Homo sapiens: one gene and its partners. The protein of the gene in region 5 purifies or fractionates together with the protein of the main gene of each other region. This does not show direct contact. Each region holds a gene or a part of one and is shown on either strand. Other genes may lie near its edges.

Region 1 (3,518 bases), on a different chromosome or scaffold from region 5:
CAGAAATGAAGGGAAAGGTCCTTTGCATTACCACCTGAGCTGTGTTTATTATGAAACAATCCCAATGCCAGGGAAGAGGCTGGGCTGAGCCTGACACTGAGAAAGGAGCTGCTCGCTCAGGTGCAAACTGACAGGACAACTCAGGGCAGGCCAGCAAAGAGGGAGAGCTCAGGCCCTGAACGTGGGCCACTCTGTCCTTCCCCATGACGAGGCTCAAGCTCTGGCGACTGAGCTAGCCATATGGACACACACCTCCTCACACTCAAAGATCTATAGCACTCCAGGGAGACTGTGCTTCCATCCAAGCTGAAGGGGAGGGAGCTGTAAGACAAATGCAAAGAGGCAGCAATAAGCAAGGGAACGGCAGCTGCGTGAATCTCAGCACCCAACACACCCTCAGAGCAGCTTAAAAAGAACAGGCAGATGGAAACCACAAAAGAGCCAGGGCTGCAATCCTGCTATCAACGTGGAATTCAGGGCAAAACACATTAAATATGACACGGAAGGACACTTTTTTTTTTTTTTTTTTGAAACAGAGTTTCACTCCGTCACCTAGGCTGGAGTGCAGTGGCACAATCTCGGCTCATTGTAACCTCCGCCTCCCGGGTTCAAGTGATTCTCCTGCCTCAGCCTCCCGAGTAGCTGGGATTGTAAGTATGTGCCACCATGCCTGGCTAATTTGTGTATTTTGAGTAGAGACAAGGTTTCACCATGTAGGCTGGACTGGTCTCGAACTCCTGACCTCAGGGGATCTGCCCGCCTTGGCCTCCCAAAGTGCTCGGATTACAGGTATGGGCCATGCCCAGCCAGAAGGACACTTCTAATACTAAAAGCCATAATTCACAGTGAATCTATAACAAGTTATGAAAATCTGTCACCAAAAAATGCACCAACTTCCTTCATAAATCAGAAACACGCTAATAGGTAATTTTGTAGAAAATGAACTAAGAGTACATAATCCTAAATAAGATAGACTCACAGATATGCTAAACTGTATACAGATAATAGAGAATACAACTTCTCAAGCAAAACACGGAACACTAAAAAATATTGATCAGGGCCGGGCGCGGTGGCTCACGCCTGTAATCCCAGCACTTTGGGAGGCCGAGGTGGGCGGATCACTTGAGGTCAGGACTTCAAGACCAACCTGGCCAACATGGTGAAACCCTGTCCCTACTAAAAATACAAAAAAAAATGAGCCAGGCGTGGTGGCAGATGCCTGGAATCCCAACTACTCGGGAGGCTGAGGCAGGAGAGTCGCTTGAACCTGGGAGGCAGAGGTTGCAGTGAGTCAAGATCGCACTTGGGCACTCCAGCCTGGGTGACAGAGTGAGACTACATCTGAAAAAAATATATATATATATAGATAGATCAGTAGATGATAAATAAGATGACAAGGAAGTTATGTAAATGTAAGAATTATAAACACTCTCTGATCAGACACATTAAAGTTAATCAGAATAACATGAGAAATTAATTGCAAGATCAAAAAGGCCCTTCCATCTAGAAATTAACAAACAAAAACAATCATAATACTTCTATTAGACAACTCCTGGGTGAAGGAGAAAATATAAATAAAAATTACAGAATTTCTAAAAATAACAAGGAAAGTATTAAATACAGAACCCCCAGAATACACTTAAAGCAGCAATCAGCAAAAATTCACAGCCTCTAACATTTAGCAACAAAAGGGCAACAATGAAAATGAAAGAAGTTTCCAACTCAAAAAACTAGAACAACAAAGTAAGCCAAATAAAAATAAAAGCAGAAATTAAACAGACAATCAGTAGGTCTCATTAATAAATCAAAATCCGATGGGTTTTTCTTGTTTTTCCACTAAACAGACAAAGTACTAGTATTTAACTTAAGAAAAAAAGGAAGAGGCTGCGCACGGTGGCTCACACCTGTAATTCTAGCAGTTTGGGAGGCCGAGGTGGGCAGATCACGAGGTGAGGAGATCGAGACCATCCTGGCTAACACAGTGAAACCCTGTCTCTACTAAAAATACAAAAAAAAAATTAGCCAGGTGTGGTGGTGGGCACCCTGTAGTCCCAGCTACTCAAAAGGCTGAGGCAGGAGAATCGCTTGAACCTGGGAGGCGGGGGTTGCAGTGAGCCGAGATCGCGCCACTGCACTCCAGCCTGGGCAACAGAGCGAGACTCTGTCTCAAAAAAAAAAAAAGAACAAACACAAATATTCAAAATAAGAAGTGAGGCCGGGCGCAGTGGCTCATGCCTATAATCTCAGCACTGTGGGAGACTGAGGTGGGAGGATCGCTTGGGCCCAGGAGTTTGAGACCAGCCTGGGCAACATACTGAGACACTGTCTCTATTTTTTTTAATAGAAGAAATTTTTGCCGGGTGCAGCGGTTCATGCCTGTAATCCCAGCACTTTGGGAGGCCGAGTCGGGTGGACCACCTTATGTCGGGAGTTCGAGACCACCCTGACCAACATGGAGAAACCCTGTCTCTCCCAAAAATGCAAAATTAGCCAGACGTGGTGGCACATGCCTGTAATCCCAGCTACTAGGGAGGCTGAGGCAGGAGAATCGCTTGAACCCGGGAGGTGGAGGTTGCAGTGAGCCAAGATCGTGCCATTGCACTCCAGCCTAGGAAACAAGAGCGAAACTCCATCTCAAAAAAAAAAAAAAATTAAAAAATATAAGAAATGAGATCCAGCAATTCCACTACTGGGTATTTATCCAAAAGAAAGGAAATCAGTATACCAAAGAGATGTCTACACCCTCATGTTTACTGCCGCAGTATTCACAGTAGCCTAGATAGAGAATCAACCTGTGTCCATCAGTGGATGAACGAAGACAGAAAATGAGTTTATATACACAATTGAATATTATTCAGACATAAAGAATGAAATCTGATCATTTGTGGCAACATGAATAAGCCTGGAAGAGACTATGTTCAGTAAAATAAGCCAGACATAGAAAAGAAAGACAAATGCCAGCTGTTGTGGTGACTCACACTTGTAATCCCAACACTCTGGGAGGCCAAGGCGAGAGGATCACTTGAGCCCAGGAGTTCAAAACCAACCTGGTCAGTATAGCAAGACCCCGTCTCTACAAAAAAATAAAACATTAGCCAGGTGTGGTGGTAGGTGCCTGTAGTGCCAGCTACTCGGGAGGCTGAGATAGGAGGATCACTTGAGCCCAGGAATTGGAGGCTGCAGTGAGCCAAGATTATGCCACCACACTCCAGCCTGGGTGACAAAGCGAGAACCTGTCTCAAAAACCAAACAAACAACAAAAAAGACTACATGACTACATGATGTCACCCATTTACAGGATTTTTAAAAGCTCATGTCAAACATGTAGAGTAGAATAGTGATTATCAGAGGTTGGGGGTGGGGAGGTAGTGGGAGAGATTGGTCAATAGGTGTAAAATTACAGATCGAAGAAAGAAGTTCTGGTGTTCACAGTAGAGTGACTATACGGAACAACAGCTTATACCTCAAAATAGCTACTAGAAGACATGATTTTAAATGTTCTCACCTCGAAATGATAA
Region 2 (3,518 bases), on a different chromosome or scaffold from region 5:
CTGTCCCTGCCTTGGAGCTATTGTGAAAGTCTATGCACAAAAACTGAAACAGGAAATAAAAAATAACCCGGCCCTTCCAAACCCCAAAACAAACCCAAAAAAAGCTGTACATTTTTTTTACACATAGGATTAATAATATAGGCATATAGGTGGCATGATTCAATTAAAAGGCTTTACTTTTTATGCCAGAAAAAACCCAATAAATAAAAGGTGCTAAAATTAGCATTAAGAATTTGGTTGTAATATACTGACAAATCTGGGAAGGCAAATCCTCAAAGCTCCCCTGATACTGATCTGTCTCAGCAAACTACAAAGCAAATACATAAATAATGCAAAATATGATTGAGAATGTGAGATTTTTAAAAACAAAGACAACATAATTCAGGTTAACTCTGTTGAACAGTCAATAAATGAAATTCATCTACACCTGAATAAAACATATTTAACAATTGAAAAAATTTTAAACAACCACAAAAAGTAAAAACTTTAAACAAACATGAACAGGATTTGTTTTTAGGGCACACAAAGGCCCCTGCAGCAGATTCCAACAGTAGCTTTACTGGTGTGTCTTCTACAGATGAGTTAAAGAGACAGGCTGAGCTCCACACAGGCAAGATGACTAACAGGGCGACAGGACAGTCACACAGGGCGGAGTGCCACACCCGGCTATAATCCCCAGATTCCACTGCAGAGCTGGCTTTGTGCGTAGGAGGCACACAAAGAAAGGTGATTCAGGCAGACATTATTCAAAAGCTACTTCGTCGTGTAACCATTGAATAATGTTTGGGAAAGCTTTGGGCTTTGTATTTTTTTTTTAAGTTTTACTCCTTGTATTTAACTTCTTAAATAACAAGGTCACTAAAACTCATGCACGCTGCAAAAAACCTCATGCAGTAGTTAAGGTAAACCATCCAAGCAGTTTTTATTCATTAATATTCATAAATACACACAGCAGCTTCATTAGAGATTTCAATTTTCCTCTTCAGTTTGAATGTGGAGTATTAGGAGAGCCTTTTGCATGTCAAGGTACAGGAAGCAGAGATCACCCCTGCACTGCTACCTACATTTACCTGCTAGAAGTAAAAATTAGTTAAGTGGAAATGATTATCATATATATTTTCTCTCTTCCTTTTGAATGTACACAATGTAACAAGAGTGACAGACCTGAAATTACAATCACCAAACAAACCCAAGATAGTTGTTGTCCACTTTCATTGGCAAATACAGCACAGAGGACATTGTCTGCGAATTGGGATGTCATCAAAGAGGAGGTGGTGGAGGCTCATTTCCTTTATTACTCTCTTTTAAATTTAGGTTTTCTAAAGCAACATCTAAAGGCATAATATCTACACAGCCCATAGCACCAAAATCTGCCATCTCCCCCCGATCATCCTCATCTGAGGATGAGCTCTCTTCACGCACTAAAGTGGACAGAAGGAGCTCTTGGACAAACAGGCTGCGGTCTGCACGCTCGCTTTCCATGGACTGGCGCTCCGTTTCAGACATTTTAGGATCATTCAACCTGTGTAAGTTAAAAAGAAAAGACCTTATTGTTAAAAAGTCAATGAACAATGGCATGGCCAATTTCTACAGTGCTCTCCACTGTGAAGTTTTACAGGTGGCAAAATTCAGAATGAGACATTGCTGGAATACTTGGCTGTAATTTATCCTTAATTGTGTTGAGACGAATTCCCCACACTTGTTGCAATACTGTTACCTGGAGGTGCAAATCTATGCTTTAATTAGACTCAATGAGAAAAAAAAAGACATTTAGACTTTTTCCACTCCAGAGAAAGCTAGGTGAAAATTTTCTAAGGAAAACAGGATTTCTTACAGATTAGATGCTTGGGAAAGTATCTAACCAGAATTTCATCTGGGGGTAAATAAAAAGAGGAAAATAAAACACAAAAACAAAATCTGCAGTGAACAGAATATTCAACTGAAAAATATCCTAAGATTTCCTCTGACTTTTCTCTATTACTCTATTTAATTCTTCTTGGTATATGCAGAAGCTAGAAAGGGCAAGAAAACACATACATACAAACTCCTACATTTCTTCTACCAAGGACCTACAGTGTAGCAGGGCAGACACAAGGTCTACCTGCCTGACTTGCTCCCCTGATGCATGTACTTATGAGATCTGGGCTATGCTGGGAAACCTGGCTCATCTGCACAGAGACTAGACAAATTTCTTGATGAAATATAACATTTAGGATATAAATGAAACTGCAAGGCTTGTGAGGATCTTCAAGTTGGGGTTAGCAAAATGAACTGGTCCCACTGTCAAAAGATTAGATCTGGCCAGGCACGGTGGCTCATGACTGTAATCCCAGCACTTTGGGAGGCCAAGGCGGGCGGATCACCTGAGGTCAGGAGTTTGAGACCAGCCTGGCTAATGTGGTGAAACCCCATTTCTACTAAAAATACAAAAAATTAGCCAGGTGTGGGGGTGCGTGCCTATAATCCCAGCTACTCGGGAGGCTGAAGTAGGAGAATCGCTTAAACCTGGGAGGCGGTGGTTGCAGTGAGCCGAGATCGTGCCATTGCACTCCAGCTTGGGCAACAAGAGCGAAATTCTATCTCAAAAAAAGACCGATCTGACTTACACACTCCAATAATCACTTTCTAAAAGGTCAACTATCTTGGACTTCAAAGAAACTGTGACCTTACCATCAGTTGCAGGGCAACATGAATAGGAACTGCCCCTGGTCAAAGAAAAGACCAAAAATAAGGCTTGGGCCCTATATATATCACATAAGAGCTGTGTGACCAGAGAGCAGGATCTCCCCTGCATACACTGCAGCCGTTCTCCTTGCCTTGAAAATTCACAATGCATGTTAATATATTTGAAGTTCTAAGAAGCCCAACAGTAAATAATCTCTTAATTTTCCTTACTTTGCTTTCTGCAACCTTATTAATTGGGGGTGGAAGAACATAAGTAATTACATATATTCCTTTGAATATATGAAGTTAAGAGAGTATTTCTGGGGAAATATTGCCTTAAATAAATCATATGAATATAATACAATAAAAGATGTGGAAAGTGGTTTGCAAACTGCATGGTACCATAGAATGTACAGTATCAGATGATAGAAGGGGGATTTCAAGAAGCTACAACCAGAATCCACAGACAGCACTCAGAGGTCACTCATACCATGCTCTGAGAGTTGGGTGTGGAATAAATGCACAGAAAAAAATTACAGATCAAGCTGAGTAGTTTGGGTCTTAAAAAAAAAAAGGATAGGGCAAGGGTGGGTAGGAAGATGTCTTTTCCAAAGGGCACTGGCAAGACATTCCACCCACAGTTCTGTGAACTCTCAGTAGAAATGCACGCTAGTAGATCTCCTTTTTGAGGTAGGGACTTAGATCTGGTATGTTATAGACCTGCTGCTGGTCAGTCCCTATGGGGAAGGCTACATGGCAGCAGGTAGCTCCATCTGTGGCTCTGTGGTTTTCTTACATTAAAGCAGCATTATCTGGTAATAACCAGGCACAGTTACTGACCTTGCAGAGATAAT
Region 3 (3,518 bases), on a different chromosome or scaffold from region 5:
TTGTCGTTGACATTTCCTATTCGAATAGTCACATTGACCTCACTTTCATGGCGGTATGGTGAACCCCAGTCAGAGGCTCTAACAATGAATCTGTAAATTTCTGGGGAGGATTCAAAATCCAGTTCTTCAGTTGTGCTAATAACACCTGTAAACTGATTAATGACAAATGGTAACAAATTCAGGCTAGCGATACTATAGGTGATGTACCCATTTTCTCCTTTATCCTTATCAGAAGCTGAAACTGTTAGAACGCTGGTTCCCACTGGGACACTTTCATTCACATAAGCATCATACAGTGGTTGCTGAAATTCTGGGGTGTGGTCATTTGCATCTTCTATGCTGATGGTGACCTGTGCTTTTAAATCTCCTTCCTTGTTTGTCACCTCCAGTTTATAAACCTCCTTCTTAACAGTATTCAGTGGCCGTGCTGTAACAATCAGACCCGACCGAGGATTAATTTTAAAGTACACTGCATCCTCACCAGGAGATAATTTGTATTCCACATCTATCGGTTCAGGACTTAATTTTACTATAGCAACCACGACACCAGGAGGGGAAAATTCACTTATGCTCACATCGTACACTTCTTTTTCAAATCTAATGGGGACAGTGTCTCTTGTGGGGTTGCCAATGTAGACTGCCTTTAATGCTGAACATTTTTGAGGAGATCCCTTGTCTTTTGCTTGAAGAGTGAGATTGTAGCCATAGGGAAAGCTCTCCCAGTCAATCTGCTTCCTCTCCTTAATCTTGTACTCATTCAACCACTTTCCTTCCTTAGCCAGGAAGAACTGATCTAAAGGATCCCCAGCCACAATGGAAACAGATTCGATCTCTCCATTCGCTCCATCATCTAAGTCATCAACTGTCACCACTGCATATGTTGGCTCTTTTTCCAACGAGAAAGGAACATGAGTGACTACATGGATTGTTGGGGCATGTTCATTTATGCGCTCAATGTGAACATAAAGCTTTGCAGTACTGCTCACTCCATTGTTCCCATACAGTTTCATTCCCCGGTCCACAGCCAAAATTTCCAGATCATACCTATTCTTTTCATCATAATTTAATCGACCACTTAAGGAGATGACACCACTCGTGGGGTGAACTGAAAAGAGATCAACTTTATTTTTAAAGTAGTAGTAGAATTCTCCATTGGAACCAATATCTGCGTCTGTTGCAGTCACCTGGGCAACACTAGTCCTTAGAGGTGTGCTTTCTGCTATGGTAACAGAGTATGTTGTGGGTGAAAACAAAGGTCTCAGATCATTCATATCTAAAACCTGTATATTCACTTTGGTCCATGCTTCCAAATCCTCTCCTCTGACAGAACCTTTTACTATCAATAAATAATTATCCTGGATTTCCCTATTTAATATGGCAGAATTGCCACCTTTAGTTCTTATTCTGAGAAAACAGAAATCTGCAATGATGACTTCCTCTGCTTTGAAAAAGCCTTCCTCGTCTCCGGACACTATTCTGTATTTGATATCCCAGGATAGATCTATTAAGGTGATGCCCATTCTACTCTGGCTGTTGACGTAGGTCCTTGCTGCTGAGTTCTCATACACGGTAGCATTATAAATGGAATGTGTGAAGTGGAAGCCCAGGGGTCCAGTCCCTGGCAGCCCCTGGGAGACAGTGGCCAAAAGCTTGAAAAGCAGGAGGATGAGGCAACAAGCAGGAGGCCGTGTGCCCACACAGTGTCCCATAATTATATCCATCACATCATACTTCCATCCTGGAGGGAAGAAAGAGAGAGAGAAAAGATAAATTAACCATCCTAGAAGAAGGGGGAGAGTGGGAAATAACTATTAGGAAGCCATGCTTTTTAAAACTTTATCACAAAATCTTTTTACTAAAACAGCAATATAAGAAAAAATTAGAAACCTTGCCACTACTAGGTAATAAGGAACTTAAGATTACTAGAATTTAGCCCAATCTTGTAAGAATTGTTTTCAAGTGACACTTTGTTTTAAATAACACTTTTATACTACTGACAGCGTTGTTCATTGGTACAAGATTTCTTACATTCTGAAGGTCAATTTAGAGATATATTGGAAGCCTTAAGTGCATTTACCTTTGACTTAGAACTGCCTTTGCAGTAATTATCCTATAGAAACATTTAGACAATTATCTGTTATAGCACAGTTTAAAGTAAAAAAAAAATGAAGAGATGCTAAATGCCTATCAATAGAGGACTGAATAATTCATGGTGTATTCATAAAATAAAATATTATGCAGTCATTAAAAATAGAGACATAAAAGATGTGCATTTTCAGATGCAGTAAGATGTAATGCTAAGGAAAAAAGGTCATCAAACAGTATATATAGCATGAGTTCTATTATTATATAAACACCTATATGTGCAAATGAATTTTTATATTTAAAAAGGATTAACTGTGTTTTGGGATTTGGTGGCATATTTGCATTTTCTAACTTTTCTTCAATGAACATTGTTCATCAATAGTTACATAATTACTTTTATAATTATAATCTTTTTAAAATGCTTCAAGGTATTACCATCTTTTATTGTGCTTACTTTTAAACTGATCAAGGTTTATGAATAATGCAATGCCATGAGAATGAACAAAGTGTCAAGTTACAAAGCAGAGACAATAATCCCTAAGGAGTTATATGACTGGAGTGATATCCAGAACTATTCAGAACAAGGGAGGTAAGAGTGATTACTTGCAAGAAAAACTTTAGAAATTACAAGAGATACTTCCAATTACTTTCATCAATGACTATTAAATTTGGACAGTTTCTACAGTTTCATGACTATGTGGGTTAAAAGATACAAACTTTTTCCTATTTTAGCCAGTAAAATCAATCAAGGAGAAGGGAGAAAGGAGGTATTCAACAAGAAAAAGTTAAGTCTATTCATACCCAAAGGATCAGATTTTTAGAACCCCCAAATATGAGTTCTTCCATCCAGTCTTATACTCTGCAAGCCCTTGACATTCTCCTTTTCTTCCTTTACAGGGAACGTGAAGATGAGAGGAGATGGAAAATGAATTTCTTTGCAGGCATGTAATGATGTAGGCACTGTGTCAGTCATTTTTCCACTTTGTTGTATTTAATCTTCATGATAATCCTAAGTAATAGGTACTATTTTACCCAATGACATATTAGAAAACTGAGGGTCAGAGAAGTTAATCTATTTAGTTGAGACATTTGCCCAAACAATGTTCCCCAGCCGGCAAGTAGTAAAGCAGGATCTCAGACCTTAATCTTTCTCTAAAATCCATGCTTTTCCCCATCACACAATCACTCTCTCAAAATTACCTGCAAGCAAGAATGAAATAATTAAGGATCCTAGAAGCATATATGACATAATTTAATTCTAATGAAATAGTCAACATATGTCATTGATTTTAAAAAGTACAACCCATCCCTGCCCCCAGCATATCTTTTTGGTTATCTCCTCTCTGGTTTTAATGTAGTTCTAGTTATTGGCTGCAAACTGAAAAAAAAAAAAATCCCTACAGGAGTTTAACATATTAAAATATTACAAATTG
Region 4 (3,518 bases), 6.4 Mb from region 5:
CAACCTTGGGTTCCCCAGAATTAATGATGGGGTCTGGGATTAGTTTTCAGTATTTTTCAAAACCTAATGGAAATAATATAATATACCTACACAGGTAAACCTTCTTCAAAAAAGAGCCTTTTCTCACTCCAAAGTCTTAGGCACTTTAATATTCTTTTAATAAGAAAAAACAAATATTTATAGAGAGAAATGGAAGAAAACAGAATTTTCCACATTGCAAGGATATCAGGGTTCCTTCTGCCTTTTACTTTCAGCACAATTGTTTCAACAGCAGCAAGGAGCCATCCTTTAAGACTTCAAATGTGCCAGTAACTCACGTTATTTTTCATATGCGGGGAACATAATTTCTGTTATAGCTTATAGGGGCTCAGTGACCAAGCTGCACGTTTGGAACCGATTTCAGATGAAAGAGACAGAATAACAGCAGGATATCCTGAAGTGAAATTCAAACCCTGGTGAGTTAAAACCACCATCTAACACCTTTCCCTCCCGAAGCAATTGCACAGAATCCTCTCAATCAAAAAAAATTCGAAGAACCTGTATAAAATGGCATTTCTTTAAATCATATTGCTCTTTGCAGCCCATAAAGCATTTCCAGATACATTCTTATTTTGATCCTTCCAAGGATGGCTGGTATACACAGGGCCTTATTCCATTTTACATAGAAAGAAACTGAGTGTTAGAGAAGTTAAGTGGTTTCTCTGAATTTCACACCTTTTTTGTCAAATATTTATTGAGTGCCTCTTAAAGGCCGGACTCCATGACCTTCAAGGATGGAGCCAAATCTCCCTGTTCCTCGTGTGATCTTCCTGTGCCCCCCTTTGGCCTGAACCTACTGTGTGGTTCACCCAGGGACTTCACCCTACATTACTACTGTGTGGTTCCCTGGAGACTGGGGGCTTAATCCGTCTCTGATATCTCCTTGATTGAATAGAATTTATAATTGGCCAACAATTTAACAAACGAATGCATTGTTTAAAGAATTATTTAAAGTTTTAAAAAATGTTTGATTCAGCCATCTTAGATCTATATTTTATGCTGATATGGACTTAAACATGTTGTTTTTATTATAATGCTTTGAAATTTGCATAAGAGCTACACATATTCTTTTATATGTATGAATTATTATGTAATAAAACATAAAAAGAACATGAGGCTTTGGTCCTTTTGTAGGCTTGGAATATTTTTAATATTACGCTAGGACTAAACCAGAGTTAGTCATCTCAGCCTTTATACCTACATATAAAGAGTTTGTTTCTGTGCCGTGTGATAGGGCAGCATCAGCCCATAGTCTTTTTTTTTTTTTTTTCCTTAAGCAAATCCATTCTTCAGGATCTCTCTCTGCAGAAGTTAAATCTCTTGAGTTGTGGAAATGGAATTTATGGTGCAGCTATAGGAGGCAGCCCCTGGTTGGTATTCCTGTAGAACAGGCAAGTTGCACACCACCTGTGAGAAGGTTCTTGTAAAAATATGTTAAATTTCTTTGAGAAGATCCAGGGCTCACTGCTATAGTTTGGCAGGAACCTGGTCTTTGGGAGAACTCAGAATTGGTGAGAATTCAGGACAGCAAAATTGTCTCTTTTAGGATTTGATATAGTGAGAGAATTGCAAAGGAAGTTTCTACTGTATTTGGGTGTTTTAGGCTTACTGCTTTGAACTTAGGTTAATATTCCCTCCTCTTTTCCCTGTCAGTATAAAAATATGAAATAATTACTGTTTTATGCCACTTTATTTCTGTCCTCGAAGGAAGCAATCAATAATTAAAAGCATGCTTTGTCTTCCTGGAGTCATGAATAATTAAATTGACTCCCCCCATCCACACACATCTTTTTTTGGACCTCAGATGTAGTTGAGGTAATCATACTTCTGAGTTCAAGGCATGCTTTTATCTGGTATATGCAAGGCAAATTTGATTTTTCAGAATGTTCCCTCTCATTTCCTGCTCTTCTCACAGACAGCTCCTCTATGGGTTTGGTTACGTATCTTTGAATACATGTGTATGTGTGTCCTGATGATCACTAGGGAACTAGACACACCTAGAACAAGGCACCCTGATTTTACTTGGCAGATTCAGACCTTGAGCTCTCTTCTGATCCTCCTGCTCACTCAGCGTTTTTCTGTGGCTGTGTCAGGGCAGGGGCCCCTGCACTGGCCCCTTCCTCCTGATGAGTGGCCTGTTCTGACACTTGAGGGAGGCAGGGCATTTTGAGGTCTCCTTTGCCTCTCAGGAACTTGCATTGTTAGCCCACCCACATCCCCAACCTTCACTTCTTTGGATTTCTAGGAAATCTGCAGTAGTTTAGGGGTGCAGTCCTTTGGCAGGGAATTAACTGAAGTACCTGCCTTTTCAGGGGTTGAACCCATGACCTTGGCCTCATTAGAGCTCTAACCAGTCACAAAGCACACACCTCACTTTGTGTAACTTCTGCTGACTTGTTCCTGCCACCCTCCGCGGCTTCCTATTCAATTGCAAAGGCGTTCACACCAACACAATAGAACAGAAGGAAATCAGATCTCTTCAAGACTTCTCTGAAGGACAGAAATATGCAATTTAGCAGGAAAATAATACAAAAAAGTCTTGAAGGTTCAGGAAACAACTTATCTTTCTAGTCCGTACATTCGCTGAGAATCCAGCTGTGTCTCTCAGATTCTTTTTCAATCAAAAATTTAAAAATAGCGTGGAACTCCTTGTGTTAATTTATTAACATAAAATCTAGCGACTCTTGTACATGAAGTGGAAGGTTTCGGATGACTAAGTGGAAATATTGTATGTATGTTATTAAAATGGATTGGGTTAGCTTTTATAGAAAAAGTGGATCTGAGAATTCATAAGTGCTTATCTTTGGCAAGTTTATAGTCCCTAGAGATAAAAATGAATGCGTGCTATAATAACAAAGACACTGTTGTGTCTTAGTGAGTGCACTGTGATGCTCAGGGTGTGTTGGTGCCCAGGGGACGCGGAGTCACCATGGAGGAGAGGAGAAACAAGGACAACTCCCTAGAGAAGTGAAATTCACACAGGGCTTGAAGACCTGAATGTATCTTGGGGGAGGGACGTGGTAAGATAATCTGGCTGTCCAAAAAGATACAGGTTTTTATTAGAGCCAAATAAAAAGCTCAAGGATTTTATGTCTTGGCACTTGGAAGGAGTTATGTTGAAATCTGTGTTCTGTTTAATCTGAGTACCAAGAAAGACTCTTCAGGGATGTAGGTACTGGCTCATATTTTTGATGAGATGGGGATTTTTCTTACTCTGGTGATGTTTGGATAGGAAACATTTGCTCATTTGCCACCTGAAAAATCTCTTCTCTGTCAATTCCGTGAATCCATGGTACAGTGACAGTTGCTGTTCACAGTGATAGCCTCATATGCTCTTAAAACCTCACCAATAAGACACATTTAATTATGAGCCAATAGTATACTCCCTAAGGGTAGGAATTCTACTTTTTAACTCAATCAAAAACATTTGTATTTGTGGACACTTAGTGGGTTCTATAGTTCTGGAAAACAACTCCAAA
Region 5 (4,187 bases):
AGAGTGCATTTGGAATTCTTTGATCTGAGTAGAGCTTTCTACCCAACTACTCTCTCAGAGGGGAGCTGGGGTCTCGGGGAACAAAGAGGGGTCACCTGCTTTATATCTCCATGTTTGAGCCTGGTGACCCTCTCAGGTGGCTCCAAGAAAGTAGAAGCTGAAGTCACTTTTGAAGGGCAGAAAGGAGAGATCCAACCCTAACCTGACGACATCCTCTCACCTGGCCTCCTGGGTCCATTGAACTAGCGTGCAACACTCTAGAGCTTTCATGCCCACAGCTGGGCTTGTGATGGCCCCTCTACCTGAGATGACACCACTTCTCTATCCACTGAAATCTTGTTTTTTTTGTTTGTTTTAGTTAAGGCAAAATTCACATAACATAAAATTCACCATTTTAAAGTGCGTACAGCCCGGTGGCATTTAGTACATTTACATTGTTGTGCAACCACCACTTCTATCTAGTTCCAAAACATTTTCATCATCCCCAGGAAAAAACACATTACCCATTAAGCAGATGGGCTCCATTCCTCTTTCCCGCAGTCCCTGGCAACCACCAATCTGTGTTCCATCTCCATGGGTTGACCTATCCTAAGCATTCCATACAAATGGAATCATACGCACAATATGTGATCTTGCGGGTCTTGTTTACTTCACTTAGCATAATATTTTTAGAGGTTCATCATATTGTAGCATGGATTAGTACATTTCCTTCCTTTTATGGCTGAATACTATTCCATTGTATGTATATAACACACTTGTTTATGCATTCATCCATTTAGGGACATTTGGGTTGTTTCCACCTTTTGACTATTGTAAATAATAATTCCATTAAAATGTGTATATAAACATTGATTTGAGTACCTGTTTTCAATTCTTTGGTTACATCCCTAGGAGTGGAACTGCTAGATCACAGAATAAGTCTACACTGAACTTTTTAAGGAACTCCCAAATTGTTTTCCACAGCAGCTGTCCCATTTTACATTCCCACCAGCAATGTACAATGGTTCCAATTTCTCTACATTCTCGCCAACATTTGTTATTCGGTTTGTTTGGACATTTTTTGGAGTAGCCGTTCTAGTGGGGATGAAGTGTGCCTACTTCATACCACTTCACTGTTATCTGGTGAAATCTTAACTCATCCTTCTGTGCCCAGTTTTCATGTCACCGTGATTTGAAAACTTCCCTGAGTTTACAAGCTCACCGCTGAGGAGTGAACTGCCTGAGCTCTGTGCCCTGAAGCCCCCCCGGGGGCGGGGGGAGCCAGCTATGTCAGTGTCTCCCTGGGAGGCTGTGCCCTTCTCTAGGGCAGGGCTGCACTGTATTCATTTTCGCATCTCTACTGCTCAGCACAATGCCTGACGCATAATGAGTGCCCCCAAAATATCTTCAAGTCCTAGTCCTTGAGCTGAGGTTTCTGCAGTATCAGTTCACCAATGGAGAGGGACATGATGGCTTCTTTGTGCTCAACTGGGACCCAAAGCAGAGATGAATCGTCCTAGCAGGGCTCTAAGCCTGAAAGACCCAACTTTATAGTTTTACCCCTGCCTGTATTCTGCTCCAGAAGCTGCTGACATACCTTTAAAGAGGATGATAAACCTAAGCTCCCAGGCATGGAGACTGAATGGCTTCAGGTGTAAGACGGCATTGGGCAACACAGATAAATAGACAATAAATCAGATGGGGCCCGTGGCCTTTGGCCAGGACACAGTAACTTCTGTGACTTTATTCTGGGTGGCCTTGTCCAGGCCAGCAGAGCTTCCGGCAGCAGCTTCGACTGTTTCCATGCAGAGACACCTGGGAACTGCATCTGCGCTTTGATTTCCGCGAAGGAAACTGTCATTTTCTCCCATATTCATTCTTCCTAACCCCATCTCCCCGAGACAAACGGCAGAATGTTTTGAAGGCCCCAGAGTACACTGATAGTTGGCTAGACGAGAAAAATTCAACGAGCGCCTATTTATGTATTTGTTGCGCTCCCAGGCTCGGGAAATAACCTTGGGAATATTTGGGAGAGTAACCCAAACATTTCTCAACTAGTGGGATATCCTGGAGGGGATGTTACTGGAAAACAAATACACTGGGTTGCAATTTCTTTCTTTCCAACTGGGCCACCTTCTCCAAGTCACCTGCCGCGCTAACGCTTCAGTATTCCCATCTGTAATCAGGAAACTGATTCCTGATCTTACATAAAAACCACCGCGGTAGGAGCCCCTTGAGAATGTTCTTAAGAAGCCAGGAGCGCAATAGCAGGCACAGCAGGGACCACCCAGCGCAACCCCCGATTTAAGTTTCTATCACGACTCGCAACTCGCGGCTTCCCTCCGGCGAGGGAATGGGAGCGGGGGCGGAGGGGTCGCAGGTGCAGCCCGGAGAAACTGGGTGAGTCGATGGTAAGGACCCGGCTCCCGCTCCCCCGCGGGACACCACACCCGCGCCCCCCGGGCAGTGGTGGCGCAGGGCCCCTACCTTGCCGTACTTCTTCAGCTTCCTCCGGTACCTCTTCCTGGGCTGCTCGCTCGGCGCCGGCTCCTCCAGTGGCTCGTAGCGCTCGGGCAGGAGGGCGAAGTGCACCCTCCGCGCGCCCCGGGTCCCCGGGCCCCGCTCGTCCGCCGCGCTCGTCCCGCTCTCGGCCGCCGCCTCCGCCTCGTCCGCGTACTCCAGGTGCTCCAGGATGGCGGCCGCCTCCTCGTCCCCCTCGGTTCGCCCTCGCCCTCGGGGCCCGCGGCGCAGGAGGCTGCTCTCCGCCTTGCTTCGGAGCCTGGCTCCCACCGTCATGATGTCCCGGCCCCTCTGGCGAAGGTCCGAGCGCAAAGACACCAACCTTTGGTCCCCGCCCGCTCCTCCGCCCCAGCCCGGACGGGGCGGGGGATTGGGGGGGCCGCAGCGCCCCCTGGCCGTGGGGCCCGGGATAGCGTTGGCTCCGCTCCGAACTGGCCTACCAGGCGGCGGGCGCGCTCCGCCAGCCCCGCCCTTCATCCCACCTGCCGGCCAAACTGTGCAGACTACGGCGCGCACTGCACAATGAACATGCAAAACACCTTCAACTGCACTTGCTACGAAATTAATGACCCCAAATAATAGGACTCCATCTGCTCATGTTCAAATTAGCAACGATGGAAAATGATACTAGAGATCACGCTCAGTGCTAGGGAGGGCATGGCGAGATAGTCACGGTAACAGGATTCGTGGGAGTGCAAATTGGTGGCAAGGTTTTGGAGAGACGATCAGAAAATCTTTATCGTGAGTCTTAGGAAACGTCCGTATTCTAGGAAATATTCGGAAACGCAAGACAGTGTGTCCACGGTGTTCAACGGTCTGACTCAGTGAAAAAGTGGAGCAAACCAACAGGGAGGCGCAAAGGAAATTCTGGTGCAGACATGCCAGCATATGGCGCAGTCTTTAAAATCATGATTTTCAGGAATATCTCTCTGTGAGATAAGCATTATCAGTGTACTGTGAATCTCAACAAGCTGAGAGTGCCCTATTTTCTTAAGTGGGTAAATGCCTTTGAATTCTGGCTAATGTAGAATTAAGGGCCGAAAGCAGTGGCTCACGCCTGTAATCCCAGCACTTTGAGAGGCCGGGAGGATAGCTTCAGCCCAGGAGTTGGGGAACAGCCTGGGCAACATAGTGAGACCTCCATCTCTAGAAAAAAAAAAAAAAATTAGCCAGGCGTAGGGGCGCACACCTGTGATCCCAGCTATTCAGGAGGATCGCTTGGGCCTGGGAGTTTGAGACTAGCCTGGGCAACACAGGGAGACCTCATCTCTAGAAATAGAAAAACAAATACAAAAGTTTACCTGTAGTCCCAGTGAGGTAGGGAGATCGCTTGATCCTGGAAGGTGGAGATTGCAGTGAGCTATGATTGTGCCACTGCGCTCCAAAGGGGTCGACAGAGTGAGATCCCATCTCAAAAAAATACTTAGGTATAAAATAACATAGATTGTTAGATACACTGATATTTTAACATTAAAGTTTGTGATTAAATTTAAGAATAACGTGTATATGTTGGTATAAGCACATACAATGTTTACGACAATTTAGTTCACTAGGATGCAAAAGAAATTAGTTTTGTGATTCCAACTTAAAATGTGAGCCAGCATGGTGACTTTCACCTGTAATCCCAGCAACTCCACAGGCTGTGGTGGGAGGATCCCTTGAGGCTAGGAGTTCTGAGCAACGTAGGC

Evidence for each region.
Region 1: the proteins of C1orf115 (region 5) and ANKS3 purify together in Homo sapiens (affinity purification with mass spectrometry; one large-scale study listed by BioGRID and IntAct). This does not show direct contact.
Region 2: the proteins of C1orf115 (region 5) and KCMF1 purify together in Homo sapiens (affinity purification with mass spectrometry; one large-scale study listed by BioGRID and IntAct). This does not show direct contact.
Region 3: the proteins of C1orf115 (region 5) and FAT3 purify together in Homo sapiens (affinity purification with mass spectrometry; one large-scale study listed by BioGRID and IntAct). This does not show direct contact.
Region 4: the proteins of C1orf115 (region 5) and SMYD2 purify together in Homo sapiens (affinity purification with mass spectrometry; one large-scale study listed by BioGRID and IntAct). This does not show direct contact.

What each region holds. Positions count from the first base shown.
Region 1 is NC_000016.10:4,706,771-4,710,288, forward strand, and holds part of ANKS3 (ankyrin repeat and SAM domain-containing protein 3), read right to left. Parts: intron 1-3,518. UniProt on the Homo sapiens protein: May be involved in vasopressin signaling in the kidney.
Region 2 is NC_000002.12:85,051,152-85,054,669, reverse strand, and holds part of KCMF1 (E3 ubiquitin-protein ligase KCMF1), read right to left. Parts: intron 1,523-3,518; coding exon 1,261-1,522; 3' UTR 1-1,260. UniProt on the Homo sapiens protein: E3 ubiquitin-protein ligase which accepts ubiquitin from an E2 ubiquitin-conjugating enzyme and then transfers it to targeted substrates, promoting their degradation by the proteasome.
Region 3 is NC_000011.10:92,350,316-92,353,833, reverse strand, and holds part of FAT3 (protocadherin Fat 3 isoform 1 precursor), read right to left. Parts: intron 1,739-3,518; 5' UTR 1,722-1,738; coding exon 1-1,721.
Region 4 is NC_000001.11:214,287,646-214,291,163, forward strand, and holds part of SMYD2 (N-lysine methyltransferase SMYD2), read left to right. Parts: intron 1-3,518. UniProt on the Homo sapiens protein: Protein-lysine N-methyltransferase that methylates both histones and non-histone proteins, including p53/TP53 and RB1. Specifically trimethylates histone H3 'Lys-4' (H3K4me3) in vivo. The activity requires interaction with HSP90alpha.
Region 5 is NC_000001.11:220,688,991-220,693,177, reverse strand, and holds the start of C1orf115 (required for drug-induced death protein 1), read right to left. Parts: upstream 2,816-4,187; 5' UTR 2,776-2,815; coding exon 2,467-2,775; intron 1-2,466. UniProt on the Homo sapiens protein: Regulates drug efflux through modulation of ABCB1 localization and activity.